Linked DNA regions of Homo sapiens: region 2 is linked to region 1. A link means that fine-mapping ties the variant in region 1 to the expression of a gene that starts in the linked region. Tissue or cell type: whole blood. Region 1 holds a variant in brackets; the other region holds the start of a gene. Each region is shown on its reference strand, or each on the opposite one. Region 1 overlaps CREBBP (CREB binding lysine acetyltransferase). Region 2 holds the start of OS9 (OS9 endoplasmic reticulum lectin).

Region 1 (15,571 bases):
AAGGAAAGGGTACAGAAATGCAGTCAAGTGCAAAAACTCTGGAACCAGAAAGGGTGATCTGAATAAGGCTTCATTTACTCCCTCCCCTGTTTCCTGAGTGTCCCCGTGTGCAGAAGTCCAGGGCCGCATGCCCCAGTGGGAGGCAGGCCCTGGGATGGTTGAGGAGCCTTGGGCTCCTGTGACAGCTCTTCTGCTGAGCCAGCACAGAGCCAGGAGTTGGGGAAGCCTGCCTGTTTTCCATGCATTCCTGGTTGTTGGGAAAAGCACCCTGACCATGACAGTTTGTTTCCTGGGGTATCGTTGTAGGCCCATGGCTTGCTCACATCTGAGTCCTCTTCTGGTTGTCCCGTCTCTCCTAGGCTCTGAAGCTCCTGGCCGTGCCGTCTGCTTTTTAGCACATGCGCTCAGCGTTCCCTTTAGTCCTCTCTGAGGTCTTTTCCTTGCAGTGCATCCCTCCGGATACACTCCTTGCTTTAACTGGAAAAGGATGCTGCTCTTCTCAGTCAGGCTCAAACTTGGCTTTCGGCAAAATTCTCCTATTGCATGAGTCTTTGATGCAGAAGTGTAAGCCTTGGGAGCAGTGCCTGTGGGGGCTTTTGCCTGTTCTCCTTTCCCTGGGGCCGTGCTCTGCTGACAGGGGTGCTACAATAGGCCACGAGCAGAGTCCCCGGGGCGTCCTGGAGTGGTCAGGTCTTTGCCATTTGAGCTGTGACTTGAAGAGATTTGAGCAAGGGCACACAAATCAAATTGGGCAAGGCTGTGTGAAAGGCATGGAAGTAAACAAAAGTGGCCCCTCTCTTTTTAAAGTTTTTTTTATTAAGTTCCTAGACAATATAGGCGGTGACTGTGGCTGTATTTAAAATACTGCCTTTAGGGTGTTTTCTGGTTCTAAATTTAGGAAGCAAGGCTATTTTTGAGCTCTGTCTCTAAAAGTTGAATTCCTTTTAAAACTTACCCTTAAGAAAGATTTGGATATTATCCCGTGTGACATTTTCCCCGGTGTTTCATTTCCATTAATCAAAAGACTGTTTAGTTGAACCATTGCTAAGAATAGTAAAATCTAATGGGGAAAATAATTCTACATGATTAAATCTGACTTTACTTTCCCATTTCTAGTTGTACTGTCTGCTATTGTTTGAAAATGTCTTAATTTGCCTTTCTAATATGCCTGTACTATATTGTATACAGTAGGTATATTTTCCAGTTGCACCTAATTCAACCTTTCGAATTTGCATAATCTGTGGTAAGGAGAAAAAGTAGTTGTGTAGTGGAGTTGTACAATTCTGTTGTAAAGCAAATCTTTTTATAATTCACAAGCTGCTTCTCCTCCCCCTAGTTTGGATTTTTCTTATTAAAACTGCACCACCTAAACATGTTTTAACTTTATGGTTAAAATAACCAGTGAAATAGAAAAATAAGTCACTGTTCTGTATGATAACATGTAGAGAAGGCTTGTACAACATTTAAATAAGGAGATTTGGGTATTTGATTACAAACTGAATGAGGACATTCAGGAGCTATAGAAATTTATCAGGTAATTAGGGTTTGCTTAGACAATTATAGACTCTACGAGTTTGACCCAGTTGCTTTGGATTAAAATATTTTGAGTATTTGTCACCTGATTAAAAGTAGAACCTTCTAACTGTGAGTCACAGTTGAAGGAAATGTCAGCTTTTTATACGGGGAGGCGGTCAGTGTGGTGCTGAGGAGGGAGCCCTGGCTCCTGCTCAGAGTAGACTGTGAGTCCCAGCTCCCAGCTCGGCAGCGCTGTGACTTGGGCTGGTGACATCACATTTGAGTTTTGCAGGGTGGGGTGTGTGTGTGTGTGTGTGTGTGTGTGTGTGTGTGAGTGAGAGAGAGAGAGAGAGAGAGATCTCTAAAAGGGGCTTTTTACCCTGCAGTATTCCATTTGTTTCTTTTCTTTCTCTTCTCTCTTCTTTCTTTCTTTTTTCTTTCTTTCTTTCTCTTTTCCTTCCTTCCTTCCTTCTTTTTTTCTCTTTCTTTCTTTTCCTTCCTTCCCCTTCCCCTTCCCCTCCCCTTCTTTACATTACTTTTCTTCTTTCCAATGGGGTCTTGCTTGCCCAAGCTGGTCTTGAACTCCCATCCTTCAGCAATCCTGCCTCGGCCTCCTGAGTAGCTGGAATTACAGGTGTGAGATGGAGCCACTGTGCCTGGCTCTACTTCTGCTTACTTTGATTATCTTGGTACATGGGGCTACTAGGGTGCCTGGCATATAGCAGGTTGAGGCAGCTGTTTTTATTGTTTAATTGTATGGGAAAATATTAGCCATCACCTACTTCTTGGGCCAGTGAGGACTAAGATGATGTAGCCTGACCCGGAATCAGGAGGCTTCTCACTGAATACATGGGAAGCTTCTGCCCCTGCCTGTTTGGCTTTCAGTGCCAGCTCTAGTGCAGTTTGGGAACCAGTTTGTAAGAAAACGAACTAAGATTCGAGAATCTTACAAAATGGGTAATCGTTTGACTCATTTTACTCCGTCTGTGTTTGCAGTTCAACTGTTTTTTATTGGAAAATTGAACTCTTAATTAAATGGAACTCTGTTTCTAGTTATTGCTTCAGAACAAGGGCTTGATTTAGATTAGGACTTAGAGAAAAGGGAAAAGTAAATGCAGAGAAATTATAAATATAGTATTTTATTGAAAACAGAGTTGGGAAGAAAATGGCCTTGGGATCACTGTCCAGTTTAGTCAGGTTGGTTGAAAGGAATACCAGTGAAACTCAATTGCCTCTCGGGCTCAGCTACACAGATCTTGAAAGGAACAGATTCAGCTCTGTGCTGTACTGTGTGACTTTTCTCCTCCTGCAGATTCTATAGTAGGAAATTCTTTTAATGGAGATTACTGTTTTTCTGTTCTCCTAGATTTGGTGTGATTTTTTTTTTTTATAAGTAAAAGTTACCCCGTGGTGGACAAAATTTTTCCCCGATTTGTGGATATCTTTACTTAAATCTGATTTACATATTCAGAACGTCACCTTTATTGAAAATAACAAAAAGACATAACATATTGATAGGTTTTCTGTGTCATTGTGGTTGTTCCTCTACTACTGTGGGAATCGGTTTTTGTTTGAAGAGCACACCTGCCCGTAGTTGAACTTCTGTTGAGAAGTCTCTGAGGGAATCATTTGAATGATGGCAAGAGAATCAAGTGTTTTGCTTTCACTGATGGCTTTCTCAGTCACTGAAACTTTAGGGGAGAACGGATTCTTTCCCAGGAGGAAGAGGGTGAATTGAGATGTTTCCTTGTTTGGGGATGCCTGTGTTCTCGGGATGCCCTCCAAGCCAGCGCTGTCCAGTGGTCGTTATTGGGAGGGCGGCTCTACGCTGTGTCTATATGACACAGTACTGGAACCACGAGCCACGTGTGGCTGTTGAGTACTTGAATTGTGATTAGTGTGACTTAGGAACTAAATTTTAAATGTTACCTGGTTTGAGTAAATGAAGATAGCCACATGTAGTTAGTCACTACGGTATTGGACAGCACAACTGTAAGTACATTTACTTATCCTCTTTGTCTAGAGTTTTCTTTAAGATACGTATCACCTAGATATTTATGACAAAGTTCCTTTAAAACGATCATCTTTTAAAGATGCAAGACTCCAAATTAAAAATGATGAAAGACTCCTTCAAAAATATTCACGGCTTAGGTCACACTGTTCAGGATTATTCACTAATTTAGAAAATATTTGTTATGCTGTGATGTAGGCCCTGGCGATCCAGTGGGGATGTGACAGGCCCCATCTCTGCCCTCATGGGTGGTGATGGATACTGGACAGGTAACTGCAGTCAGGTGTGACCTTGGAGGGGACATACTGTGCATTGACTGAGGCACCAGATGGGGACTGAGCCTGTTTTGAAGGGTATTGGAAGTCCCCGGGGGCTGTGACGTTAGCACTGACACCTGAGGGTGAATAGGAGATGGCAGATAGTACTGTTCCAGGCAGAGGGAACAGCACTCATAGCAGGGTGGAGGTCTGGCTCTTGTGACAGTTTTTGGGTTATGTTCACTGGGCTACCAGAATTTAGGAGGCCTCATGGTTTTGCTTCTGAGATGGTGGAGACTAAAGGTGTGGTTCTGCCCTGCGGGGGTTGGTCGGCCCGGGATCCAGTCTTGACTCCTACCACTTCATTCTTTTATTCAGCAAATATTTAAGCACATTTTACGTGTGGGGCACCCTGCTGGGCTGTGGTGATGACAGTAGTGGCAGAAGCTGCTTCTGTCCTCATGGAACTCTGAGTTGTGTGGTGTGGTGGGTGAGCAGTCCCGTGGTGCCCACCGTGGCCTATAGCATTTCACACTCAGCTCGATGTCTGACTGGAAGGAAGTGGATGCCTCAGGCTGGGTGGTCAGGGAGGCTTGTTGGAGGAAGGACACCAGAGCTCATTGAGGGTGAGTAGAGCATCAGCTTGGGCATCTGAAGGCGAGATAACATCACCAAGGGCCTTGAATGTCAGACCTAGGAGTCCAGGTTATTATTTTTTTTTAGGGCTTATAAAACAAAATTAAGCTTTAAAAAACCCGTGTCCAGAGTGATTGGGGGAGCTCCTGTGATTTATTTTCCAGAAGTCTAGATTAGCTTTTTCAAGGTGTGTTTTTTCATCCAAGTTCAGGTCTGTAGGGAGAGTAGACAATGCTTTCCCCTCCTGAGCCCCGTTTTTGGCAGGAAAAGGGCCCCATGAAAAGCAGCTTAAGAACTGGAACTAGTGTTCTTATTTAAGATGTTAGTAAATTTTTGTACAAACAATTTTCTTTTAAAAGTTTTTTTAAGTTCTTGTGAGTAGATAATATATTCATATGGTTCAGAATTCCAAAAAAGCAGAGTAATTGGTGAAAACTCTTCCTCCTGTCTGTTTCTGGGGTCACTGGTCATTCCCCTCCCCATAGGCAACCAGTGTTAGCTGTTTCTTACGTATTCTAGAGATGGACTGTGCGTAGCCAGGCAAATATGGTCTCTTCTTACTCTTTTTGCCCTAAGTAGCCCATTTTATGTAACTCTACTATCAGTGCCTTTCAGACTGATACATATCTCAGAGCTGTTGGAAATGTTAGTATTAGAAATGCAGGCTTTGTTCTATTTTTTTAAATTTATTTTTATTTATTTTGAGACAGGGTCTCACTCTGTCCGCCAGGCTGGTGTGCATTTATTTGATCACAGCTCACTGCAATGTCCACCTTCTGGGCTCAAGCAATCCCACCTCAGCCTCCCAAGTAGCTAGGATGACAGGTGCATGCCACTATGCCTGGCTAATTTTTTTTTTTTTTTTTTTTTTAGTAGAGATACGGGGTCTTCCTATGTTGCCTAGGCTGGTCTTGAGCTCCTGGGCTCAAGCAGTCCTTCAACCTCAGCCTCCCAAAGTTTAGGGATTACAGATGTGAGCCACTATGCTCGGCCCAGGCTTTCTTTTAATTAATTAAGTCTTCTTTTTTAACGGTAAAATGTTTTGGTGCTGCATTTAGATAAATAACACAAAACAATTTTAATGTTTTCTCTATGTTATATAAATAGGAATAATTGAAGTTTTCTTGTTTTTTGTTTGAGACGGAGTCTTGCTCTGTCACTTAAGCTGAAGTGCAGTGGTGAGATTATAGCTCACTCTAGCCTCAAACTCCTGGGCTCAAGCCATCCTCCCACTTCAGCCTCCGCAGTAGCTTGGACTACAGGCACGCACCACCATGCCCAGATAATTTTTTATTATTTTTGTAGAGACAGGGTCTTGCTATGTTGCCTAGGCTTAAAGTTTTTTTAAAATTAATTCCATGTCATCTCAAAGAATATTAGAGGTTTTGCTACTGTCATCAAAATGCATGTCATGCAGCCAGCTCACACAGAAGTTGTGTTTATTGTTTCTCAATTCCTGGAATAGATTCTTAAAACTTCTGGTTTTTATTACCCACCTTAATAGTTGAAATAGAAATATCTGTAGGTTAGCAACCTACTTCAACACCAAGCAGATAAAGTTTCTTGATGGGTAGGACTTCTAAGAACATTTTCATTAACTCCAGACCTTTTCGTTAATTTAGTTAATTAATGTAGAGATTGTAAAACACTGAGTATGACTCAGAAATCCTTTAGAAAAGAAAGGGTAAAATCAGTGAAGTTCCTTCAGAAGAGTAGCTGAGTTCCCTGGCATTGCAGATCCAGTTGAGGGAGAGTGATGGGTACTTAGGAGGGGAGAAAAGACTGAGAATCAATAAACAAAGGATGGAGAGCAAAAATGATAATTAGATCTCTTTTAGGGGTAGAAAGATATGCTAATGGTGTATGTAGGAAATTTCTAGAAGGGAATCTCTAGAAATTGTTTTTCGGGGTTGAGCTAGAGATGTTTTGGGGGCTGTTTTTCATTTTATATTCTGAGGGTTTTTTTTCAAACAAAGCAAAAAACCATAAATGTATTTACTTTCATAGTGAAAAAAGAAAAACTAGTTAAAAAAATTCAAAACAAAACATTTTGGGGGTATATATGTTTTTGTATTGTTTTATTTTTATATTTGTGATTAAGAGAATCTGTTAAATGGTGAGAAGCAAAGTTTTAGTTAATTCCTGTTGCAAAACCTTTAGACCTCTAATGAGAATTATTTGAACAAAGTACAAATTACCCCTAAGAGGCGCCATCCAGAGATAGGAAAATGGATTGTGTTTTAGTGTGGCGTCTGATCATCACTTGCTTTGTCACAAGCTCCATTTTTAACATCATCTTTATATTAGAGGTTTCTTCATTGATTTGCTAGAAGCCACAAGACATGACAGCCAACTAATTTTTGAGTATTTTGAAATAATGTCAGATTTCCCTGTGTGAGCGTTGGGTACAAAATGTTACATGTCGATTGTCACATCCCTTTAGAAAAAAATACTTTCGAAAAGTTCTTCTTTAAAGTGCCCTTTTCTTTTCTAGCCTTTTAAGCTTATTTGTACACTAAATATATTTTGAACTAATAGTGAACCCATTTCACATTTTATCCTCAAATCATAAGGACCCTAACTGGAAACTGGAGCACTGGGAACCATTCCAGGTGTTACCACCTGGTGCTGAAGTTAATCACCTGGGCCAGTATATCCCCAGTGGGGGTGCCTTAAAAAAAAATCAGTTTCTTGGCCGGGCGCGGTGGGCTCACGCCTGTAATCCCTGCACTTTGGAAGGCTGAGTTGATGGATCATGAGGTCAGGATATCGAGACCGTCCTGGCCAACATGGTGAAACCCCGTCTCTACTAAAATACAAAAATTAGCCGGGTGTGATGGCGTGCACCTGTAGTCCCAGCCACTCAGGAGGCTGAGGCAGGAGAATTGCTTGAACCCAGAAGGTGGAGGTTGCAGTGAGCTGAGGTCGCGCCACTACA[T/C]TCCAGCCTGGGCGACAGATCAAGACTCCATCTCAAAAAAAAAAAAAATTAGTTCCTTTAATTACTTAAACTAGTAGTTCATTCACATGGCTCAGAAAACTCAGAGGACAAAACCTGTAGAGAGAGCCTCCCTCCACCTAGCTCCTCCCAGGTAACCACTGGAAGTAGTGCTGTCTTCCAGGGTTTATCTGTATTCAGGCAGACGCTGTTGACTCTTAGTTCTCTCTTCCCCCTTCCTGCCTTTTTCTTCTTAACTGAGGTAGCATAGTGTACACACAGCTGCATACGTTTATTGTCTTCTTACAGTTGTCTACCATTCCATTATGTGACCTGTGCCATAATTGCTTTAATCCTCTCCCCACTGGTGGACATTTAGGTTATTTCCAGTCTTGTCTTCTCACAAACAGTGCTTTAATGAATAGCCTTGTAAAGTTATGCGGACAGGCAAATCTATGGAACAGATTCATAGAAATAGAATTAGTGGTTAAAAGGCATATGCATTTATAGTTTTGATCATAGCAAATTTTCCTTCAAGAGCCTGTGTGTTGGTAGAGTCTTAAAATGTGAAAGGCAGCACATATATTCTCCAGGTATACATTGCTAGATGTGTTGCAGATATTCTTTTTTTTTTTGAGACAGAGTCTTGCTTTGTCGCCCAGGCTGGAGTGCATTGGCACGATCTTGGCTCACTGCAGCCTCCACCTCTCAGATTCAAGTGATTCTGGTGCCTCAGCCTCCTGGGATTACAGGCATGCACTACCATGCCCCGCTAATTTTTGTATTTTTAGTAAAGGAGGGGTTTTGCCATGTTGGCCAGGCTGGCCTCGAACGCCTGACCTCAGGTGACCTGCCTGCCTTGGCCTCCCACAGTGCTGGGATTACAGGTGTGAACCACCATGCCCAGCCACGGATATTCTTTATCAGCATAGTCTATGATGAGTAACACTAAGGTTGTTCTTCAGCTTGTGATTCTCCATCATGTTGTGCTTCTCAGTTGTTTCTGAATTCTCTCATTTTATGGTGTACCTTTTTATTATTATTTTGAGTCAGGGTCTCACTCTGTCACCCAGGATGGAGTGCAGTGACGTGATCTTGACTCACTGTAGCCTCCATCTCCTGGGCTCAAGCAGTCCTCCCACCTCAGCCTCCTGAGCAGCTAGGACTATGGGCATGTGCCACCATGCCTGGCTAATTTTTGTACTTTTTTTTGTAGAGACCGGGTTTCGCTATGTTGCCCAGGCTGGTCTTGAACTACTGGACCCAAGCAGTCCCCCTGCCTCGGCTTCCCAAAGTGCCAGGATTATAGGTGTGAGCCAACATACCTGGTACTGGCATACTTTTTGGACTTAAGGCATTCATTTTCTGTTTGTGGCTCTCAAATAGCCCACACGCCTCCACGCGTTGTACATGGACTGGCACTTCCAAGTCTGCTTTCACGTCTGGAATATGCTCTTTCCCCCTTTCTTGACTTCTTGTTGCCGCCTGCCAGCTACATCTCACAGCATTTGGGGCAAAGGACCTGGTCTCTGGATGTCTGTTTGCTTGTTCTTACAATATGGCTGGGGAATCTGAGGTGGCTGGGAATCTGGGGTCTGGGGCTGCTTCTGCAAAGGCTAGCTCCTAGCTCAGCCCCCACATTCTTCTTCCTCCAGGACTGTTCTTGGCTGGAGAATCCTCTCCCTGTAAGCAGGGTGGATAGGCAGCTGACTGTAGCACCTCTCCGGGGTCTGGTGCCCCTCTCAGCTGTGGTGGTGGTAAACAACCCGTTTTTGCTCCCCTGTCCCAGATGATTGGGCTAACGTGCAGGGGCTGCTGGGTCATTACTGTGTTCTGGTGGCAGCTGGCTGCTATGACAGGCACCTTCCATTCCACCCTTGTCCCCACCCTTCAGGGCTGAGGGAAGCAGCACGCAAACCATGTTGAGGAAACTAACGTTGTCTTGGCTGTCTGGGAATGGCACTTCCCTGTGACTGCTAAGTGCACCAAATAAAAATAGACTTGGCTGCATTTCCAGGACAGTTTAGGGTCCCAGGTGACAAAGAACTTTGAATAAGGACTGTCTAGGGTTTTTTGTTTTTGTTTTTGTTTTGAGACAGAATCTTGCTCTGTCACCCAGGCTGGAGTGCAGTGGCGCGATCTCGGCTCACGGTAGCCTCTGCCTCCCGAGTTCAGCAATTCTCCGGTGTCACCCTCCTAGGTAGCTAGGATTACAGGCACCCACCACCACGCTCAGCTAATTTTTGTATTTTTAGTAGAGATGAGGTTTCACCATGTTGGCCAGACGGGTCTTGATCTCCTGACCTCAGGTGATCTTCCTGCCTGGGCTTCCTAAAATACTGGAATTACAGGCATGAGCTACTGTGCCTGGCCCTGTCTTGCTTGGGTTTTTTAAATGGAAGGTAAATAGTAATCATTCAGCGAAGCAGGATGTTTTTTGATACCTGATACAGAGTACAGCCATCAAGTGCATTTGAGAATGAATAAAAAAGCTAAAATTTTATAATCAATTATGCAAAAGTAGATTTTACCTTTTCCAGGTAGCACTCTTGAATATTGTATTAAGTGCATTTTGATAAATCAGTATTTCCCTTCTGATTCACATTACAGTTTCTAAGGTTCTGTAATTTTTATTGCAGTTAGTTTAACCTGATACCATAGCTTGATTTATTTCCCCTTAATTCAAACTTTGAAGTTCATCATGTTTCCATGTTAAATGAACTTACTAAGCACATTTCCGTGTAAAAGAGTCCCCCTGGATGGACCCTTCTGTGACATGAAGAATATTTGTCCTGTAATTTAGCTTTCAAATAAGAGGCAAACTCTGAGCAGAACTTCAGAGGGAAAGGACACTGAGAAAAGACAGTTCCAAAGAGGCAGGGACGGAAGACAGCAAGGCAGGCAGGCAAAGCTGGCTGCTCTGCCGTGGGGAGCTTCAAGGGAAAAACTTCAAGATGGCAGGAGCCCCTCGGTAGGTACGAATTCGATACAGTGGGAAGGGCGTCACTTTGGTAGGTATGTGGATCTGATACAGTAGGAAGAACCCCACTAGAATGTCGTATATGAAGAATGGACTTCTTGGGGAAGGTCGTTGTTAATGTCCACTTAAATATCGTTCATCATACAAAACACAGCATATGACAGGAAAACAAGAAAACCCAAATTCTAAGCTCTAGTATAAATGTAAGTGCTGTGTTGAGGGTTTTAAGACAATTCGGTTTATTAAACCCAAATTTAATAACCCGAGATTGTGTCACTGCACTCCAGCCTGGGCGACAGAGCAAGCCTGCCTACCGTAGTGAGGCCCTTCCCACCGTATGGAACTTGTACCTACCCTGGGGCTCCTGCCATCTTGGAGCTTTTCCCTTGAAGTTCCCCACAGCAGAGCAGCCATCTCTGCCTGCCTGTCTTGCTGTCTTCTGTCCCTGCCTCTTTGGAGTTGTCAGTGTCCTTTTCCTCTAAACTTCTGCTCAGAGCCTCTTATTTGAAGCCTTTCCTACTTTTGTTCACTGCCTTATTCCACTTGGCTGTAAAATATGACATACGTGTTAATTTAAGTTTGTGGCTTGGTGTCCATTGGCTGTCTTCCTCAATTAGAGTACAGTCCTCTGGGGAGGCCGACTTCTATTCTATCTCAAACCCAGCCGGTCCTGCACCGAGTGAGGGCCCCTGAGCAGTGACTCGCTTCCTTCTCCTGGGGAGGAGAGGGTGGGGGCTGCCGGCCGAGCTCTCTGGCTCTTCAGCAGATCAGTGATTCTGAGGAGGGGCAAGACTTACTCAAGATAAGATCACTGTTCAGAATGAAGTACAACCTCATTGTTCTGTTCTAATTAGGGATTGGTGTGTCTGCATAAAAGAAGCCTGAATTACGGAAGATTTTAGAAGGAGGTTGCTTTAATTATTTCCTAATAGTCATTGTAAAAAAAAAAAAAAAAGTTAGATGTCTTTTGGGAACTTGTTTAAATGCCTAGATAAAAATTACTTACGATGGCATAAATATTAATAAAACAGCTTTTCTCTTTCTTTTTTTTTTTTTTTTTTGGTATAGAGAGTTGTTCCATTATATTTATTTGCATAATCCCCAAGAACTTTCAAAGCAAAGTAACCTTTAATTCTACTAGAATTGCCACAGATCAGCAGGGATGAGTTTATTAGCAAGTCACTACCATTGATAAGTGGCGGCTGTTGAGCGCCTGCTCTGTACCAACCCTGGAGTGCCAGGTTCTTAAAGGCTTTGGCTGGTTCAGCCCTCATAGGTGCCTTGGGAGATGGGATTGGGACAGTGATAGTAATGACTAATATTTTTTGAGTCCTTACTGCATGCCAAGCTCAGTGCTAAATGCTGTATGGTTTAATTCTTTCATCAACGATCCTGCGAAGCAGGTGCTACTGTCCTTTATTTTATTTTATTTATTTATTTTTTTGGGACAGAGTTTTGCCCTTGTTGCCCAGGCTGGAGTGCAATGGCGCGATCTCGGCTCACTGCAACCTCCCAGTGATTCTCCTGCCTCAGCTTCCCGAGTAGCTGGGGTTATAGGCACCTGCCACCACGCCCAGCTAATTTTTTGTAATTTTCAGTATTTTTAGTAGAGACAGGGTTTCACCATGTTGGCTAGGCTGGTTTCGAACTCCTGACCATAGGTGACCCACCTGTCTGCCTCCCAAAGTGCTGGGATTACAGGCATGAGCCACTGCACCCAGCTGTCCTTCCATTTTAGAGCTAAGGAGGGGTACACAGGGAGGCAGTAGCTGTGGTGACAGCTGTGATCTGAACCAGGGCTTGGTTGAGTACTCTTCTCACTACACCAGACTGCACTTCCTGTGTCCGTAGTGTCTAATTAGTAATAGATCAGTAAACACACCGAGAGCGTAGTGTGGCCTCCAGGTCATTTAACAATAATAATAACAACACTGTGAATCCTTCCACCACTCTCTAGATTCCTCATCTCTAGGAGTGAACTTTTCCAGGATGCTTTGCCCTTGCTGGATCAAGTTTTTTGTATGTAGTTTTTTTCCTTCAAATTTTGTTTTAATTAACAAATAAAAATTGTATGTATTTATCATATACAACATGATGTTTTGAAATATCTATACATTGTGGATTGGCTAAATTGAGCCAATTAACATGTGCATTACCTCTTCCTGTGTCCGTTAACTTAGAAATTAAAAATTCTTTTTGGAGCCACAGTGGCACATGCCAGCAGTCTTGGCTACTTGGGAGGCTGAGGCAGGAGGATTGCTTGAGTCCAGGAGTTTAGGAGTTTGAGGCTACAGTGAGCCATGATCACACTTGTGAATGGCCACTGCACTCCAGCCTGGGCAACACAGACCCCATCTCTTAAAAAAAATTCCTTTTGGAAGTTTTTCGAGGGTAGGTAAATAGGTGAATAAAAATGTTTAGCTTTTGAAAGATTTAATAGAAGCATTTGAGTAGTCAGGGCTATAGTACAAGTCTGAGGATGTAGGGAAAAATCAGGTTTCTCCTATACTCCTTTATTCCTATACTCAGTGTCAACAGTCGACACAGAACACCTCTGGGACCAGATTTGTGGAGATGCCCCCAGCCACACACACACACCGAGTAGGCACTCGGTGCTGCAGCAGACGCCAGCTGACAGGCAGATGGTGTCAGATCCCACGGTTGAGGGCTCAGTCCTCAAGACTGCCCCCGCCCCCCACCATTTGCAAGCCCCAAGTTGTTTTACCTGTGCTTCTGACTGGCTATAAATGGGGTTCCCACAAGCCCCTCCTTGGGTTCAATTAATTTACTAGAGCGGTTGACAGAGCTCAAGGAAACATGTTTACTGGTTTTTTATTGTAAAGGATATTATGAAGGATACCACTGAATATCAGGTGATAGGGCAAGGCGTGTGAGAGGGCCATGTAGCCTTTTTGCCCCGTCCAGGTGTGCCACTCTTCAGGAACCTCCATGTGTTCAGCTATCTGGAAGCTCTCTGAACCCTGTACTTGTGAGTTTTTATGGAGGCTTCATTACATAGGCATGATTGATTAAACCATTGGCCGTTGGTGATCAACTTAAGCTTTAGTATCTCTCCCTTCCCTGGAAATTAAGGATGGGCTGAAAGTCCCAGTCCTCTAATCAGTCATGCCTTGGTCTTCCTGGTGACCAGCTCCTGTCCGAAGCTACCTAGGAGCTGCCAGCCATCAGTCAATTCGTGAGCATACGAAAAGACATTACTGGTTGGGTGTGGTGGCTCACACCTATAATCCCAGCAATTTGTGAGGCCGAGGCGGATGGATCACCTGAGGTTGGGAGTTCTAGACCATTCTGGCCAACATGGTGAAACCCCGTCTCTGCTGAAAATACAAAAAATTAGCCGGGTGTGGTGGTATGCGCCTGTAATCCCAGCTACTTGGGAGGCTGAGGCAGAAGAATTGTTTGAATCCGGGAAGTAGAGGCTGCAGTGAGCCAAGATCGTGCCACTGCACTCTAGCCTAGGCGACAGAGCCAAAAAAAAATAAAAATAAAAAAATAAAAAATAAAAATTCTATTTTGGAGATTCCAAGGATTTTAGGAGTTGTATGCCAGGAGACAGGGTGGAAGACCAAATACATAGTCACAGTATTACAAAAGTAATGCAAAAGACAATCTAAAGAAACCATGAAAAAAAAATCTAAAGAAAGGAGACCTTTTTCACAGGAAATAGGGATGTGAGAGAGAAATTAGGAGTGGGTGAGGAAGAGAAAATATGTGTGGGAGGGAAAGCAGAGAAGTATGAACACATCACAAAACAGCATCTGAACTCTTACATGCTTATTTCTTACACTACTGTTGCTCATCCTACATTATGCCATTTAATCTGTGTATCAATTCTAGGGTTGGGGTTCATTGATGCTGAGTTTGTAGCCAAAGAGTGAAATATACTTGGGTGGTCCCCTAAAAGGTAAAGAGGGCAATAGGAAAAAGTCTTAAAGAGAAAGATGACCCAGTGTAATATTTCTAGAGAATTCGTTATTGTTTCTGTTTTCAGAAAGTAGTAGTAAACATTAAGATTACTGCTTTATATCTTTGACTAGACAAGCAGCTTGTTGATACTGTGTATCCTCTATAATGTGAGCACTCATTCAGCACGTGGGTTTATTGAGTGCCTAGTACATACGAAGCATTTTATGCTAGGCACTGAGTAGATAAGCAAGACAGGATCCCTGCTTTCAGGGAGCTTACAGCCCCACGCACGTTATAACGTGAAATTGTTAGCATAATTTTAACGCATTGTGTCTGTAGGAGCATAAAAGAGTTCTTATTTCCAGGAGAAGGTGTGATAGACCAGTCCTGTCAGTACAAATAATCTGGGGCTCCAAGTGGAATTCAAAGAAGAAAATAAGGTATTATGGAAGAGGAGGCTGTAGAAAACCTGAAGAAAGGTGTGTTTTGTGGATACTTTGGCTGATGGCTTTGAAATTTTTTTCAGATGAGGCTGTTTTCAAATGTTATTGGCTGCACAGATTGATTTAGCCACCCACCTGGTGTTTGATTCTAGTAGTTCATTCCTTGCTTAAGGTGAAATGCTGATTTCTGATCATCATTATTAAGAATGGATCCTGGAACAGATGTAGGTACCATTTGTCTTTCAGTGTTTAGGAGTGATCCCCACCTAACAGTCTGCATGCAGACCACCGGCTTGGGTTTCCTAGTATAGAAGTGAATGTCCTCTGTACCTTGCTTGGTAAACAGTTGCCTTTCCTGAGGCTGGCTGAGTTTGGCTGTAACTTTCTCCTTCCTAAGTCCCTACTATTTTCCTCATTCCTCACTGGGTCTTCCCAGCCTCGTATGAGTGTGATAGAAATGGGGAAATGTGTAGCCTCTCTTTTCTCTCATTTCAGCTTAATGAAAGGGGTAGCCTCCTGGTTGGCAGCCAGGAAGCTGCAAAAGGGAAAATTCCTTTCCCTAGCTATGGAAGTATGACAGGCAGTGTTCGCTATTTGATATCGGCTGGTGAAGTTTCCTTGAGGTGCAAATGCTCTGGGTGCAGGGTGCCCACAGTCTCCTTTTCTTTGCATTCTCCCGGGCCCCCTGGTAACGGTCAGAGAGAAGAGGGCTTACCTGGGACTGGATCGCTGTCAATCGTGAACCTTAGGAACTTCCGATGATACAGATTGCTCTTGCTTAACCCATGTGTTGGGACACTTTGGTGTGTAGAAAGCAAAGCTGTGTTGTGTTGCAATATCCTGGCCTGCCTCCTTCACTCCCCTTTG
Region 2 (15,571 bases), not on the chromosome of region 1:
GTTTGGCAGTTCCTCAAAAAACTAAACCTAGAATTACCATAAGGCACATTCTACTCCTAGGTACAGACCCAAAAGAATTGAAAACAGGACTCAAACAGATACTTGTACACCAATGTTCATCGCAGCATTATTCACAGTAACCAAAAGATGAAAACCTATTTGTCCATCCATTGATAAATAGGTAAACAAAATGTATATACAGACAATGGAACATGATTAAGCCATAAAAAGAAATAAAATTCTGATATATGCTACAACATGGATGAACCTTGAAAACACCATGCTAAGTGAAATAAGCCAGACACAAAAGGACAAATCTTGTATGATTTCACTCATGTGAAGTACCTAGAACAGGAAACTCATACAGACAGAAAGTAGAACAGAGTCTGGGAGAGGGAGAAATAGGAGTTATTTTTGTTTGGGATGATGAAAAAAGTTTTGGAAATAGTAGTGATGGTGATAGAACACTGAATGTTTCCACTGAATTGTACACTTAAAGACTGTTAGAATGATAACTTTTAGGTTATATATTTTTTCAATCATTAAAAAAATTGAGGGCCAGGCATGGTGGCTCACACCTGTAATCCCAGCACTTTGGGAGGCCAAGGTGGACGGATCACAATGTAAGGAGTTCAAGACCAGCCTGGCCAACATGGTGAAACCCCGTCTCCACTAAAAATACAAAAATTAGCTGGGCATGGTGGCAGGCGCCTGTAGTCCCAGCTACTCAGGAGGCTGAGGCAGGACAATCGCTTGATCCTGGGAGGCGGAGGTTGCAGTGAGCCAAGATCACGCCATTGCACTCCAGCCTGGGCAACAAGAGTGAAACTCTATCTCAAAAAACAAAACAAAACAAAACAAACAAAAAATTGAATTCACCAATAACATACACTCCTGTAACCCAGTGATTCTACTTTCTAGGTATTTCCCTGGAGAAATTCTTGTACACTCACAATAAGACCTACATTGCAGCACTGTGTATAAGGGCATTAGAGTTGAAACCCAACTGTTTATCAACAGAGGAATGGGTAAGTAAGCAATGAAACACAATACAGACATTAAAATCACTCAACCAGGCCAGGCACGGTGGCTCACACCTGTAATCCCAGCACTTTGGGAGGCCAAGGTGGGTGGATCACTTGAGGTCAGGAGTTCAAGACCAGCCTGGCCAACATGGTGAAACCCCTTCCCTACTAAAAATATAAAAATTAACTGGGCGTGGTGGTGGGCACCTATAGTCCCAGCTACTCAGGAGGCTGAGGCAGCAGAATCGCTTGAACCCAGGAGGCCGAGGTTGCAGTGAGCCTAGATTGCACTACTGTATTCCAGCCTGGGTGACAGAGCGAGACTCTGTCTCAAAAAAAAAAAAAAAAAAAAAAAAAAAAAAATCACTCAACCAGAGTTCCATGTCATGCCATTGAATGGCAAACACACTGATCAGTGAAAAAAACAAGTTGATACTCCTGATGTATAATTTTAAAACACAAAACACTATCTATTGTCTGTAATATATATATCAGTAATAAAAATACAAAACAAACATAGTGAGGGTTGTGGTTGTTTCTGGCGGGAGGGAGAGTGACTAAATATGAAGGTGGGCTTTAGCTATTAGCACAAGCATTTTATTCCTTTTTTTAAACCAGAGATCTGAAACAAATCAGGCAAAACATTAACATCTGTTTAACTTGGCAGTGAATTTATGGGTCTCTATGACATTTTTTTTTGTATAATTGTATGTTTTATAACTTAAAAAAATCTTTGATATCTCTAGAATCTTACTTTATAAGAATTGAGTTGGTCTACTACCCTAGACCTTCCTTTAGAGGCAAATTGCTCTCCCAGGGTTCTGCATCCCAGCCCTGTCCGCATTTTTTTCTCACTTTTTCTACTGTACCTTGATCTCCCTCTCCTCCTTTCCGCTAACATCCACCCAACAGCCTTCAACATGTTCTAGTCTGTTGCATCTTAAAACACACACCAATAAATAGGAATTTATTTAATTCCATATAGCTAACCAGTTGTTCCCTAGCCCCACAGAGACTGCACTTTAAACAACATGCACGCTGTTCCTATTGAGGAGGCATCAGGCCAGCAACACATCACAGTGCCTGCCCTGGAGTAGGGGCTTTACCTGATCACCTAGGCAAGTGGCATAAGAACTGAAAACTAGAAGCAACCAGACAGGAATGGCCTCAACTTTCTGCCACCAAAACCTCCAGACTCACTAGCAAATACACCATTCCAGTTACGACCCTAGACCTTCCTTTTGAGGCAAATTGCTCTCCCAGGGTTCTGCATCCCATCCCTGTCCACATTCTTTTCACATTCTCTCTACTGTACCTTGACTTCCCTCTCCTCCTCTCCACTAACATTCACCCAAGTCTTCAACATGTTCTAGTCTGTTCCATCTTAAAACACACACCAACCACAGAATGCCCCCTCTCTCAACCCCCCAGCACCTCTCACTAATGCTTACCTTTTATCTCCCTTTCATATCCAAACTTCTTCAAAGATTTCCAGTTTCTTTTTCTTTTTTTCTTTTCTTTTTTTTCTTTTTTGAGACAGTCTCACTCTGTCACCCAGGCTGGAGTGCAATGGTGCGATATCAGCTCACTGCGACCTCCGCCTCCCGGGTTCAAGCAATTCTCCTGCCTCAGCCTCCCGAGTAGCTGGGATTACAGGCGCCCACCACCACACCCGGCTAATTTTGTATTTTTAGTAGACATGGGGTTTCACCATATTGGCCAGGCTGTTCTTGAACTCCTGACCTCAAGTGATTTGCCTGCCTTGGCCTCCCAAAGTGCTGGGATTATAGGCATGAGCCACCGCGCCCAGCAGAGTTCCACTTTTTCACCACTTTTCTCAACACCTCATCTTCACAACTCTGCTCAAATTGCCCCAGCAAAGATCACCAATGATCTCTATCATTAAGTCCAACCAAAGGACTGGTCAGGGGTGCCTGGAAGTAGAGAATTTATACTTTCCATCTGGCTCTCTTCTCTACTGTCTGAATTTTTTATTTCCATGTACATGTTTTGCCTTTATTAAAATAATAATGACTATGATTGCCTATAAGCAGTTTTTAATCCTCCTCTTCCTTGAAGGTTCAGGCACAGCCAACACCATGGACCAATTTCCCCTTCAAATGTGTCCTTCCTCGTTTCCATGTCACCATAGCCTCCTCTCTGGCCCTTTCTTCTGGCAAAACCCTCTTCTTCCCATGCTCTTAGTGATGGCTTCCTTGAAGTTCCATCCCACTTTTCTCATTAGATACTGTTTTCTTTGGGGGATTTCATCCATACCTTGGCTTCAGTTATGGCTGATACAAGGACAACTCCCCACCTCTGGGTTCAATTCAGATCTCTCTGCTGAACTCCAGACCCAGAGATCCACAGCCCCCTTGGAAATCTCTACTTGAATGCCTAGCAGCCACTAAAATCATATTCAAAGCCAAACTCACCATTTTCCTTCACCATACCTACTCCTCTTCTCATTATACCTATCTCAGGAACACGAATCACCCTCTATCTAACTGCACAAGCCAAAAGCCTGGAAATCATTCTTGACTCCTTCTTACTCTGTTGATTTTACCCCCTAAATCTGTCTCTAAATATTCACATTTCTTCATCCCCAGGCCACTTTTATTTCACACCTGGATTACCACAGCTGCCTAAGTGAGCTCTCAATCTTTGCTATACTCCAGCTAGAGTGGGCCTTCAATTCCAAACCTGAATATGTCATCATTCTGCTTCAAATACCTCATTGCCTCCCCTAACCATTGTCTCTTGGATTGTCTAAATTCCTCATCATAGCTACAGAGCCCTTCATGACCTGTCCCCTACCAACCACCCAGACTCATCTCCTACACTCCTCTTCCCATGATTATCCCCTCAGTCCCTGTGAGTATCTGTCAGTTCCTGGGATAGGCCATTGCCTCTTGTCTCCAGGCCTTTTGCACTTAGCGCACCTTCCATTTGGAATGCCCTCTCATTCCCCCCACCATCCTCTCCATCTGCTAGTCTAACTCCTCATCCTCCAATGTCAGTTCAAAGGTCACTTTTCCCAAGAGGCCTCCTTTTCACCCTGGACTCTGTCCCGACTGTGTGCTCCCCTGCGGGCTGCACTTCACTGCTCATGGCATTTATCCTGCTTGTTGTGGCTGTTCATTTAACATATCTCCTGAGAGCAGGACTAGGTCTCATCCACCTTTTTGTTCCTAGTTTCTATTAGTGCTTGGCACAGGGCATATGTTCACCAGATATGAGGAAGCTATGCAGTCTTGACCTCAGTTCTTGGCCTACTGAAGATACAAACACCCAAACGAATAACTAGAATACAATGAAGTGCTATAACGGATTATATACGTGTGTGGATGCTTGTATTATTAAGTGGTGAAGGAACACAACTAACTAATTTTCTGGGTTAATCAAGAAAGGTGATATTAGAACTGGCTTGTCAGTCATTTCATTCATTCAATGAATAATTTCTAGGTACCTATTTGAGTGAAGCACTGTTCCAGGAGCTGTGGATACATAAGAAAACAAGATAGACATCATCCCTGCCTTCCCAGAGCTTATCTTAGTGAGGGAAGACAGAATTAAACAAATACAATAATTTCAAGTAATGATACATGCTTTGAAGAATGCAAAACACTGTGGATGCTTACCAGGACAGGAGCAATAGGGTGTGTGTGTGTGTGTGTGTGTGTGTGTGTGTGTGTGTGTGTATGTGTGTGTGTGTGTTTGCTTATGTTAGGTTCCGTGTGTGTGTGTGTGTGTGTGTGTGTGTTTGCTTATGTTAGGTTCCCTGGGAGTTGTCACTTGAATATAACCTGAATGAGGGGATGGGGCCAATCATTTAAAGATCTGCAGGAGACTGCACCAGGCAGAGGGAACAATGAGACCCACTGGTTCGAAGGACAGAAAAAGGCCAGTGTGGCAGAAATACAATGAGTACTTATATCTCTATCCCAGACCTTGTCCCTGAATTCCAGAACCACAGAGCCAACTGTCAACTGGACATCACCACTAGGATGTCTAAAGGCACCTCAACCTTCAATATCCAAAACCAACCTAATTTCCTCCCCTAAACCTGTTCCTTCACACTTCAGTAAATTACAATTCCATCATTCCAGTTGCTCAAGCCAAAAATCTTGAAGTAATCCATGATTCTATCCCACATCCAAACCATCAACAAATCTCATTGGCTCTACCTTCAAAATATATCCAGAATCCAACTACTTCCCATCACCTCCACTGCCACCACCCTGGTCTGTGCTGAAACATTTGGCTCTTAGCCTTTGTGCAAGGCAGAAACATTGAAGGTTTTTCAGGACTGAACAGAGAAGTGATGCAGACTTACAGGTGTGTTGGAGCCAACTGGTAAGTTTTGGAGAATGTTGCAAGACAGTTGACATCATTTGACTTGCGCATCATGGGAGTATTTATACCACAGGCATTGGCAAACATTACAGATCAGGGCTTCCCTCCCACACCCATAGAGATCTGGGGGTCCAACACTTACCAGCACACAACTGCAGGTACAAATCTGCATTATGGAAAGATAACTCTGGCAGGTGTCATGTAATTCTTTACAGGTGTGTATATTTGTGAATACATGAGAATCACCCAAGGAACTTTTTGCATTCTATATTTGCCTGCCTCCACTCAGCTAAGGACCACTAGATGAGAAGCACTTGTAAAGAAGCTGTTTGCAGGGATGCAGGCGAGAGTGAAGGTACCGACCACAAGAAAGCATAGGAGAGTTTTGAGAGATATCTAGTGCTGGGATTACAGGCGTGAGCCACCGTGCCCGGCCTGGAAATAATGTGGGTTTTTTTTTTTCTTTTCTTTTTTGAGACAGAGTCTCACTCTGTCACCCAGGTTGGAGCACAGTGGCACGACCTCGGCTCACTGCAACGTCCGCCTCCCAGGTTCAAGCAATTCTCCTGTCTCAGCCTCCCGAGTAGCTGGGCCTATAGGCACCCGCTACCACGCCCGGCTAATTTTTGTATTTTTAGTAGAGATGGGGTTTCACCATATTGGTCAGGCTGGTCTTGAACTCCTGACCTCAGGTGATCTGCCCGCCTCGGCCTCCCAAAGTGCTGGGATTACAGGCATAAGCCACTGCGCCCGGCTGGAAATATGTTTTAAACTTTGGATTTAGGGTCTGGGAGGGGACCCCCCCCGCCCCCGCCCCGACTATAAGATGCAACCCTCTTCCCTTAGAATCTGAACTGTCCCTGTGGGAGTGTCAACTTCCCTCTCTCAAGACTCACCCGAACCTCGGCCTCCCGGGGCCTCCCATTAAGGTCGCACTTGGACCCATTGCCATAGGTCTGGCTGTGGTAGCGTTTAAGACGATGCTGCTTGGAGGCCTGGAGAAGACATGAGGCAGGAATGGGGGACATGAGAAAGATAGCAAAGAGGAAGGATGGCACTGCGTCCCCAAAGAGACAAAAGAATGGCCTGTGCCCCCAGGCCCCAGGAAACTTTGTCCTAATGGCCACCAAGCCCCAAGAAACAGATCAGCTAATCTTGACCCTCCCCTTCTTGTCAGGGCTCTCAGCCGGTGGCCAGAACCCTTTCTTCCTGAATCCCACACTCTTGCCACCTTGGCTGTTTCATCATCCCAGTCGAAGGCTGATTGGTAGTAGCCGAGATAGAGGACTTCACCTTTGATCTCTGAATCTGCAAGGGAAGCCACAGTGAAGCACTGTTACTCTTAAGAGGAGGAGGAGGAGGAGGGAACTGGGGAACTTCCATGATATGACACTAAGGGCTTAAGGAAAATATAGGAGTGAGTTACCTTCCATGTGGTATTGCTGGATGTGGCGTCCATAACAGAATTCATATGTCCACCAGTCCTTTGTCTGACAATTAAAAAATAAACAATCAGGGGGATGGAGTGCAGACATCTTTTCTTGGAACCAGAGTCTCCTGGCTCCAAGACACATAACCTCTCATCTACTTACACACTCAATTCTCTTCCCTTCACTTCCACTCTCAATTCTCCAGACTTTCAGTAAGGAGGGAGGGCTGCTTTCCTTCTGTGACTTGGAGAGATATCTCTAAAGTCTGTTTTCCACTTGTGGTCTTTCCATTCCTCCCTTTTAAAAGATTTTTTAAATCCTTATTTGCCCTCCATAAAGATAAGAAATTATGGTATCCCTGAAGCAATTATATTAGGGAAACATAGAAGAACCCAAAATTAAATATTAATTGAACTTCTTGAACATTCCTGGCACTGTTCTGGCCACTGGGAATACAACTGTGAACAAGATTAATTCTTTGACCTCATGGAGTTTACACTCTAATGCGGGGAATCAGACCGAAAATAAACAAACTGATTCAGTAAATATGATTTCAGATCATGAAAAGTGCTACGATGAAAATAAAACAGGATACTGGAGCAGAGTGATAGGGCAGGGGGTGACTTTAGCAAGTAGGCTTAAGGAAGTACTCCTCCTACCCCACGCAGACCCTCAATCTTGCTTTAGCCCTTTTCTGAGATCTTCTATCCTAACCTGCTCCTACGTTCAGCAAAGTGTCATCAGTGGTTGCAGGATTCTTTGCTTCTTTCCTGTCCGTGTAATCTGTCTACTCCTCCAGTGGTCTTCTTAACCACTACAGGTCCCCTAGATCCTGCCTCATTCAGTGGACTCCAGTTCTTGGATGAACTGCTAGTTTCCAAGCCCTCATTCTATCTAACCCAGTCCCTTTCACCTTCAGCAAGCAGGGAGCATCTCTCATTGGGCTCAACAACTCAGGGATCCCAGGCCCTTGGTAAGCAGGTGTTTCCTCCTCCCTTTCACGCTGGAAGTGAATAGCTCCAGCTGGCAGGCGACACTCATAGCGCTGTTTGTACTTAGAGGAGACAATCACCACGTCCGAAGATTGGCTCTGGGAAAGAAGGGAGGGTCGGGGGGCAAGGAAGCAAAGAAAGGCTGGGATCAGGGAGAACAACGAAATCCCTCTTCAAACCCTGGGGAAGAGATCAGTCGAAGACAGAATAAGCCATAAGCCCTCCAGCTGTATTTAGTGGGTGAGAGGAGAGGGCGCTCCCATTTCTCCACGGGGGCGGAGTCCGGGTGTTTCGATCATAAACTGAGACCTGAAGGTTGACAGCGGGAAGCCCCACCTCTCCCAATTCCTGGCCCCCAGAGAATTGGTCTCAGTCTGCGACCCCCAGGGGTCACCGTAAAAGCAATACCTACTCTTCCCGATTCCCCGTAGGCTCCAGCCCCAGACTCCGGAGCTGCCCTTCTTCCTCTATCTCTTACCCGCTTCCTCTTCTGCCCAGACCCTCGCCCCTTATACGCCTCTCACCTGCCCTCCCATGACAGGCAACGGCAGGATCTCGATCCCATAACGCATCTCACTCAGCTCCTCCAGGTTCAGGCTCCCGACACCGCCGGTCAGACTTGCGGGTAACAGGAGTCCCAGAAGCAGCAGTCCTAACAAACTGGACAGCAGCGTTTCCGCCGCCATCTTTCGTTCCCCTTCTTATGCAGAGAATCTGTTTCCGCCCTAAGCCAGGCAGCGGCCTCAACACGCCCATCGGCGCCACATGATTTTATTGGCTGTACGTTCTATCCCTCCCACGTACCCTATTCCTATTTGTAAACGTGGCTCCAAGGTCCTGGGGAGGTGGATCACGACGATTAGAAATATCAATCGCTGTCCGTGATTGGTCAGAGACCAGCCAATCATCGACAAGATCAAACCCCTCCTCGTTCCCCAATTTCAGAGGCGTGGTCTATGCGCTTGGTCCTTTTAAGTTTGCCCTCTGTCTTCGCCCAGCTGTCATGCGCATCTCATTGCTTTTTCAGACGTCTCTTGCATTATATCCTGCCCACCGCCGGGCGGAGTATTGAGGCAGATAGGTAGCGTGCGCAGTGCCGGTGAAAGTTATTAAATGCTTGTTGCAAAACAAACAATTATTATACGGACGCTTACCTCTTTTCATATATACATATTGCTTTGAGGCAATCAGAAAATTTGTGTCAAAACCTTCCTATACGATCCTGCAGTTGACCTCCAGTAAAATGACCTCCAGTAAAAATCCTAGAGAAATAATGCGGGCAGCCAGACGTGGTGGCACGCACCTGTGGTATCAGCTACTCCGGAGGCTGAGGCAGGAGGATCTCCTGAGCCCAGGAGTTCAAGTGCAGCCTGCGCAACACAGCGAAACCCCGTCTCAAATAAGTACGTACATACATACATACATACATACATACATACATACATACATACATGCATACATGGGCTTCCAGTTAAGGTGAAATTATGTATTACTCTCCAGGCCGTAAGAAAGGGAAAGGAGACAACAACAGCAACATTTTGGAAGCTGGAAATCAAACAGAAGAATGTTAACTGGTTTAGCAAACTTGAGAATATTTATTACGAAACAAAGGTAAACAAGAGGCTGATTATACCTTTGGAAAACCCTCTCTGGGGAATCTCACCAGCCAAAACGAAAAATCCCAAAGATACCCTTATCAGAGTTCTCTTAATGATATAGATAACTAGAATGAATTCCACATGTAACACTTTGGCCTACGTGCCCCAGCCCTCATTCCACTTTCCAATCAGCTTTTTAGTGTTCTTACTCTTCAAAATAAATAGCCAGAGATCATTAGACATTTAAGGAAGGACTTTAATATACAAGTAAGAAACAAACAAGAAGGGAAAAGCAAATGAGAGGAAACATAAATTGCAAGGGAGGGGAAAAAACACTAAAAATAAAAAATTTAAAAATAGGCCGGGCACGGTGGCTTACGCCTGTAATCCCAAAACTGTGGGAGTCCGAGACGGGCGGATCACTTGAGGTCAGGAGCTCAAGACCAGCCTGGCTAACGTGGTGAAACCCCGTATCTACTAAAAATACGAAAATTAGCTGGGCATGGTGGCACGCGCCTATAGTTCCAGCTACTCAGGAGGCTGAGGCAGAAGAATTGATTGAACCTGGGAGGCGGAAGTTGCAGTGAGCTGAGATTGCGGCACTGCATTCCAGCCTGGGCCACAGAGCTAGACTCCGTCTGAAACAACAAAGCATTTAAAAATAATCCATCATCAGACTTCTCAAAGAGATATTATAGAGCATTCATAAAATAACAACAGGAAACTACTTGAGAGTAACTACTATTCGGATAAGCAAAAAGAGCTCTTGGAAACTAAAACCATGTTACAGAAATAAAAATTCTATAAAAAGGCTGGGGGATAAAGTTGAAGAAGATCAAATTTGTTCTGCTTTAGGAGAAAACATAAAAATAAAGGATCAGTCCAGAAGGTCTGGACTAAATAAGAGTTCTAAATTAGAGTTCCAGAAAGAGAACAGAGAATCAGAAGAGATCATCAAAAAAACTATTTAAAAGGACTATCCCAAACTGAAGAACAGTCTCCAAATTGAACAGGCACCCTAAGTATCCAGAACAACAAATCAAACCCACACCAAGACACATCATTATAGAATCTCAGAGTACTGGACACAGAGAAAAAAATTCTAAAAGCTTCCAGAGAGAAAGAACAAGTTGCATATACAGACAAAAAAAATCAGAACATGTGACTTCATGTTGTTGCTTTGTTAATACATTTTTTAAAAATCAGTATAACATTAGGATTAAGAATCAGAACACCATTGCTACCCAAAGCAATCTATAGATTCAATGCAATCCCTATCAAAATACCAATGACATTCTTAACAGAAATAGAAAAAACAACCCTAAGAGACCTAGAATGGAACCACAAAAGACCTAGAATAGCCAAAGCTATCCTGAGCAAAAAGAACAAAACTGGAGGAATCACATTACCTGACTTCAAATTATACTGCAGAGCTATAATAATCAAAACAGCATGGTACTGGCATAAAAACAGACACAGACCAATGGAATGGAATCCAGAATCCAGAAACAAATCCATATATCTGTATTGAACTCATTTTTGACAAAGGTGCCAAGAACAGACACTGGGGGAAAGACAGTTTCTTCAATAAATGATACAGGGAAAACTGGATATCCCTATGCAGAAGAATAAAACTTGACCCCTATCTCTTACCATATATAAAAATCAAATCAAAATGGCTTAAAGACTTAAATCTGGCTGGGCGCAATGGCTCATGCCTGTAATCCCAGCACTTTGGGAGGCCGAGGTGGGTGGATCACGAGGTCAGGAGATTGAGACCATCCTGGCTAACACGGTGAAACCCTGTCGCTACTAAAAATACAAAACATTAGCCAGGTGTGGTGGCAGGCACCTGTAGTCCCAGCTATCCGGGAGGCTGAGGCAGGAGAATGGCATGAACCTGGGAGGCCGAGCTTGCAGTGAGCCGAGATCGCGCCACTGCACTCCAGCCTGGGTGACAGAGCGAGACTCTGTCTCAAAAAAAAAAAAAAAAAAAAAAAAAAAAAAAAGACTTAAATCTATGACCTGAAACTATTAAACTACTACAAGAAAACATTGAGGAGCCTCTCCAGGACATTGGCCTGGGCAAAATTTCTTGAGATACCCCACAAGCACAGGTAACCAAAGCAAAAATGGACAAACAGGATCACATCAAGTTAAAAAGCTTCTGCACAGCAAAGAAAACAACAAAGTGAAGAGACAAGCCACAGAATGGGAGAAAATATTTGCAAACTACTTGTCTGACAAGGGAGTAATAACCAGAATATATAAGGAGCACAAACAAAAGAAAAAAAAATCTAATAATCTGATTTAAAAATGGGCAAAAGATCTGAATAGACATTTCTCAAAAGAAGACATACAAATGGCAAACAAGTGTATGAAAAGGTACTCAACATAATTGATCATCAGAGAAATGCAAATCAAAACTACAATGAGATATCATCTTACCCCAGTTTAAATGGCTTTTATCCAAAAGACAGGCAATAACAAATGTTGGAGAGGATGTGGAGAAAATGGAACCCTCGTACACTGTTGGTGTGAATGTAAATTAGTACAACCACTATGGAGAACAGTTTGGAATTTCTTCAAAAAACTAAAAATAGAGCTACCATACAATCCAGCAATCCCACTGATGGGTATATACCCAAAAGAAAGGAAATCAGTATATCGAAATGATATCTGTACTCCCATTTTTGTTGCAGCACCATTCACAATAGCTAAAATTTGGAAGCAAACTAAGTGTCCATCAACAGATGGATTTAAAAAAATGTAGTACGTATACACATAGGAGTACTTACTATTCAGCCATGAAAAAGAATGAGATCCTGTAACTCGCAACAACGTGGATGAAACTGGAGGTCATTATGTCATATGAAATAAGCCAGGCACAGAAAGACAAACTTAGCATGTTCTCACTTATTTGTGAGAGCTAAAAACCAAAGCAGTTGAACTCACGGAGATAGAGAGTAGAAGGATGGTTACCAAAGGCTGGGAAGAGTAGTGTGGGGTTGAGGAGAAGTGGGGATGGCTAATGGGTATAAAACATAGAAATAATGAAAAAGACCTAGTATGTGATAGCATAACAGGGTGACTATAGTCAATAATAATTTAATTGTACATTTTAAAATAACTAAAAGGGTATAATCGGATTGTTTGTAACACAAAGGATAAATTCTTGAGGGGATGGATACTCCATTTTTCATGATGTGATTATTACTTATTGCATGTCTGTATCAGAGTATCTCATGTACCCCATAAATATATACATATATACACCACTGTGTGCCCACACAAAAATAAAATTTTTAATTGTATTTAATTGATTCCTTATCAGAACAGCATTGGGCTTACAAACTCATCAACATTGGGAGGAATGAGTGTGGTGGCTCACTCCTCTAATCCCAGCACTTTGGGAGGCCAAGATGGGAGGATCACTTGAGCCCAAGAGTTTGAGACCAGCCAGGGCAACATAGGGAGACTGCATCTTTACAAAAAAAAATTTAAAAAAAATAGTAGGGCATGGTAGCGAGTGCCTGTGATCCCAGCTTCTTGGGAGGCTGAGGTGGGAGTATTGCTTGAGCCCAGGAGGTCAAGGCTGCAGTCAGCCATGATCACGCCACTGCACACCAGCCTGGGTGACAGAGTGAGACCCTGTCTCTTAAAAAAGAAAAAATACATTGGGAGCTAGAAAATAATATAAAATATCTTCAAATTTTTTAGGGAAATTATTTCCAACCTATAATTCTATGTTCCACCAAACTATAATGTTTTTTGATTCAACATTATTTTTGTATAAATTTGTGGAATGCAAGTGCAATTTTGTTAGATGCATAGATTGTGCAGTGGTGAAGTCAGGGCTTTTAGGGTATCCATTACCCAAACAATATGCATTGTACCCATTAAGTAATTTCTCATCATCCAGCCCCCTCAAACTCCATCATCCTTCTGAGTCTCCATTGTCTATTATTCCACACTCTATGTCCATGTGTACACATTGTTTAGCTCCCACTTATAAGTGAGAACATGCAACATTTGTCTTTCTGTTTCTGACTTGTTTCACTTAAGATAATGGTCTCCCATTCCATCCATGTTTATGCAAAAGACAGATTTCATTCTTTTTTATGGCTGAATAGTATTTCATTGTATATATAGACCACATTTTCTTTAACCAGTCGTCCATTGATATACACTTAGGTTGATTCCATATCTTTGCTATTGTGAATAGTATTGCAGTAAACGTACAAATGCCAGTATCTTTTTGATGTAGTAATTTCTTTTCCTTGGGTAGATACCCAGTAATGGGATTGTGGAATCAAGTGGTAGTTTTATTTTTTAGTTCTTTGAGAAATCTCCATACTGTTTTCCATAGAAGTTGTACTAATTTACATTCCCACCAACAGTGTTTAAGTGTTCTCTTTTCTTCATGTCCTCACCAACATCTGTTATTTTTTGACTTTTCAGTAATAGCCATTCTGACTGTTGTAAGACGGTGTCTCATTGTGGTTTTAATTTGCATTTCTCTGATGATTAGTGATGTTGAGCATTTTTTCATATGTTTCTTGGCCATTTGTATGTATTTTTGGAAAAAAATGTCTATTCATATCCTTTGCTCACTTTTAATGGGGTTATCTGAGATTTTTGTCGAATTTTAGTTCCTTTTATATTCTGATATTAGACCCTTGTTGGATGTGTATTTTGCAAATAGTTTCTCCCATTCTGCACGTTGTCTGTTCATTCTGTTGACTATTTCTTTTACTAGTCAGAAGCTTTGTAGTTTAATTAAGTCCCACTTGCCTATTTTTGTTTTTTGTTGCCTGTGCTTTTGAGGTCTTAGTTATGAATTATTTTGCTAAGCCAATGTCCAGAAGAGTTTTCCCTAGGTTTTTGGCTGGTATTTTTATAGTTTCACATCTTACATTTAAGTCTTTAGTCCACCTTGAGTTGATTTTCGCATGTAGTAAAAGATAGGGGTCCAGTTTCGTTCTTCTGCACATGGCAATCCAATTTCCCCAGCACTGTTTATACCATTTGTTGAAAAGGATATTCTTTCCCTTGTGTGTGTGCCTGTGTGTATTTATTGATTTTTTGAGACAGGGTCTCGCATTGTCGCCCAGGCTAGAGTGCAGTGGCACAATCATGGCTCACTGCAGCTTTGACTTCCTGGGCTCAAGCTATTCCCCCACCTCAGTCTCCCGAGTAGCTGGGACTACAGGCACATGCCACCACTCCCAGATAATTTTTTAAATTAATTTTTTGTAGAGATGGAGCCTCACTATATTGCCCAGGTTGGCCCAGTGTGTGTTCTTGTCGACTGTGTCAAAGATCAGGCCAGGTATGGTGGCTCATCCCTATAATTCCAACACTTTGGGAGGCTAAGGCAGAAGGATCACTTGAGGCCAGGAGTTTGAGACCCGCCTGGGCAACATAGTGAGACCCTGACTCTACAAAAAATAAAATTAAAAAAATTAGCTGTGTATGGTGGTGTGTGCCTGTAGTCCTGAGCTACTCTAAAGGTGAAGCAGGAGGATTGCTTAAGCCCAAGAGGTCCAGGCTGCGGTGAGTCATGATCACACCACTGCACTGCAGCCTGAGCAACAGAGTGAGACCCTGACTCAATAAAAAAAAAATTTTGACTCTAAATATGTGCATCTACTTCTGGGTTCTCTACTCTGTTCCATTGATCTATGTGTCTATTTTTAAATGAATATCATGCTGTTTTGTTTACTATAGCCTTGTAGTATAATTTCAAGTCAGATAATGTGATGCCTCCAGCTTTGTTTATTTTGCTTAGGAAAGTTCTGGCTATTTGGGCTGTTTTTTTTTCCATATGAATTTTTTAGGATTTTTTTTTCTAATTCTGTGAAAAGTAACCTTGATATTTTGATAGGGATTGCACTGAATCTGTAGATTGCTTTAGATAGTATGGTCATTTTAACAATATTAACTCTTCCAATCAGTGAGCATGGGATGTTTGTGTCACCTACAATTTCTTTCATCAATGTTTTGTAGTTTTTCTTATAGAATCCTTTTACTTCCTTGGTTAATATATTCCTAGATATTTTATTTTTTGGTAGCTATTGTAAATGAGATTGCCTTCTTGATTTCATTTGCAGCTAGAACATTATTAGTGAATACAAACACTCTTGATTTTTGTACATTTATTTTGTATC

The links. PIP is the estimated chance that this variant, and not a neighbour inherited with it, causes the effect.
Region 2: it holds the start of OS9, and the variant in region 1 is the best candidate, but not a certain one, in a credible set for the expression of OS9 in whole blood (TOPMed, PIP 0.81).

The regions. Positions count from the first base shown.
Region 1 is chr16:3,857,477-3,873,047 of GRCh38, reverse strand. All of the region lies in intron 1 of CREBBP (CREB binding lysine acetyltransferase), which reads left to right. Among named protein-coding and RNA genes, the nearest start is that of CREBBP, 15 kb to the left of the region's middle. RefSeq lists silencers at 346-640, 1,546-1,840, 12,977-13,161 and an enhancer at 474-1,009. The variant T/C (reference allele first, on the strand shown) is at 7,358.
Region 2 is chr12:57,687,080-57,702,650 of GRCh38, reverse strand. OS9 (OS9 endoplasmic reticulum lectin) reads right to left here and starts at 8,519. Exons shown (of 15, transcript NM_006812.4): 1 at 8,328-8,519; 2 at 7,725-7,901; 3 at 6,808-6,871; 4 at 6,613-6,689; 5 at 6,278-6,376. The coding sequence starts at 8,489. RefSeq lists enhancers at 8,279-8,328, 8,316-8,890.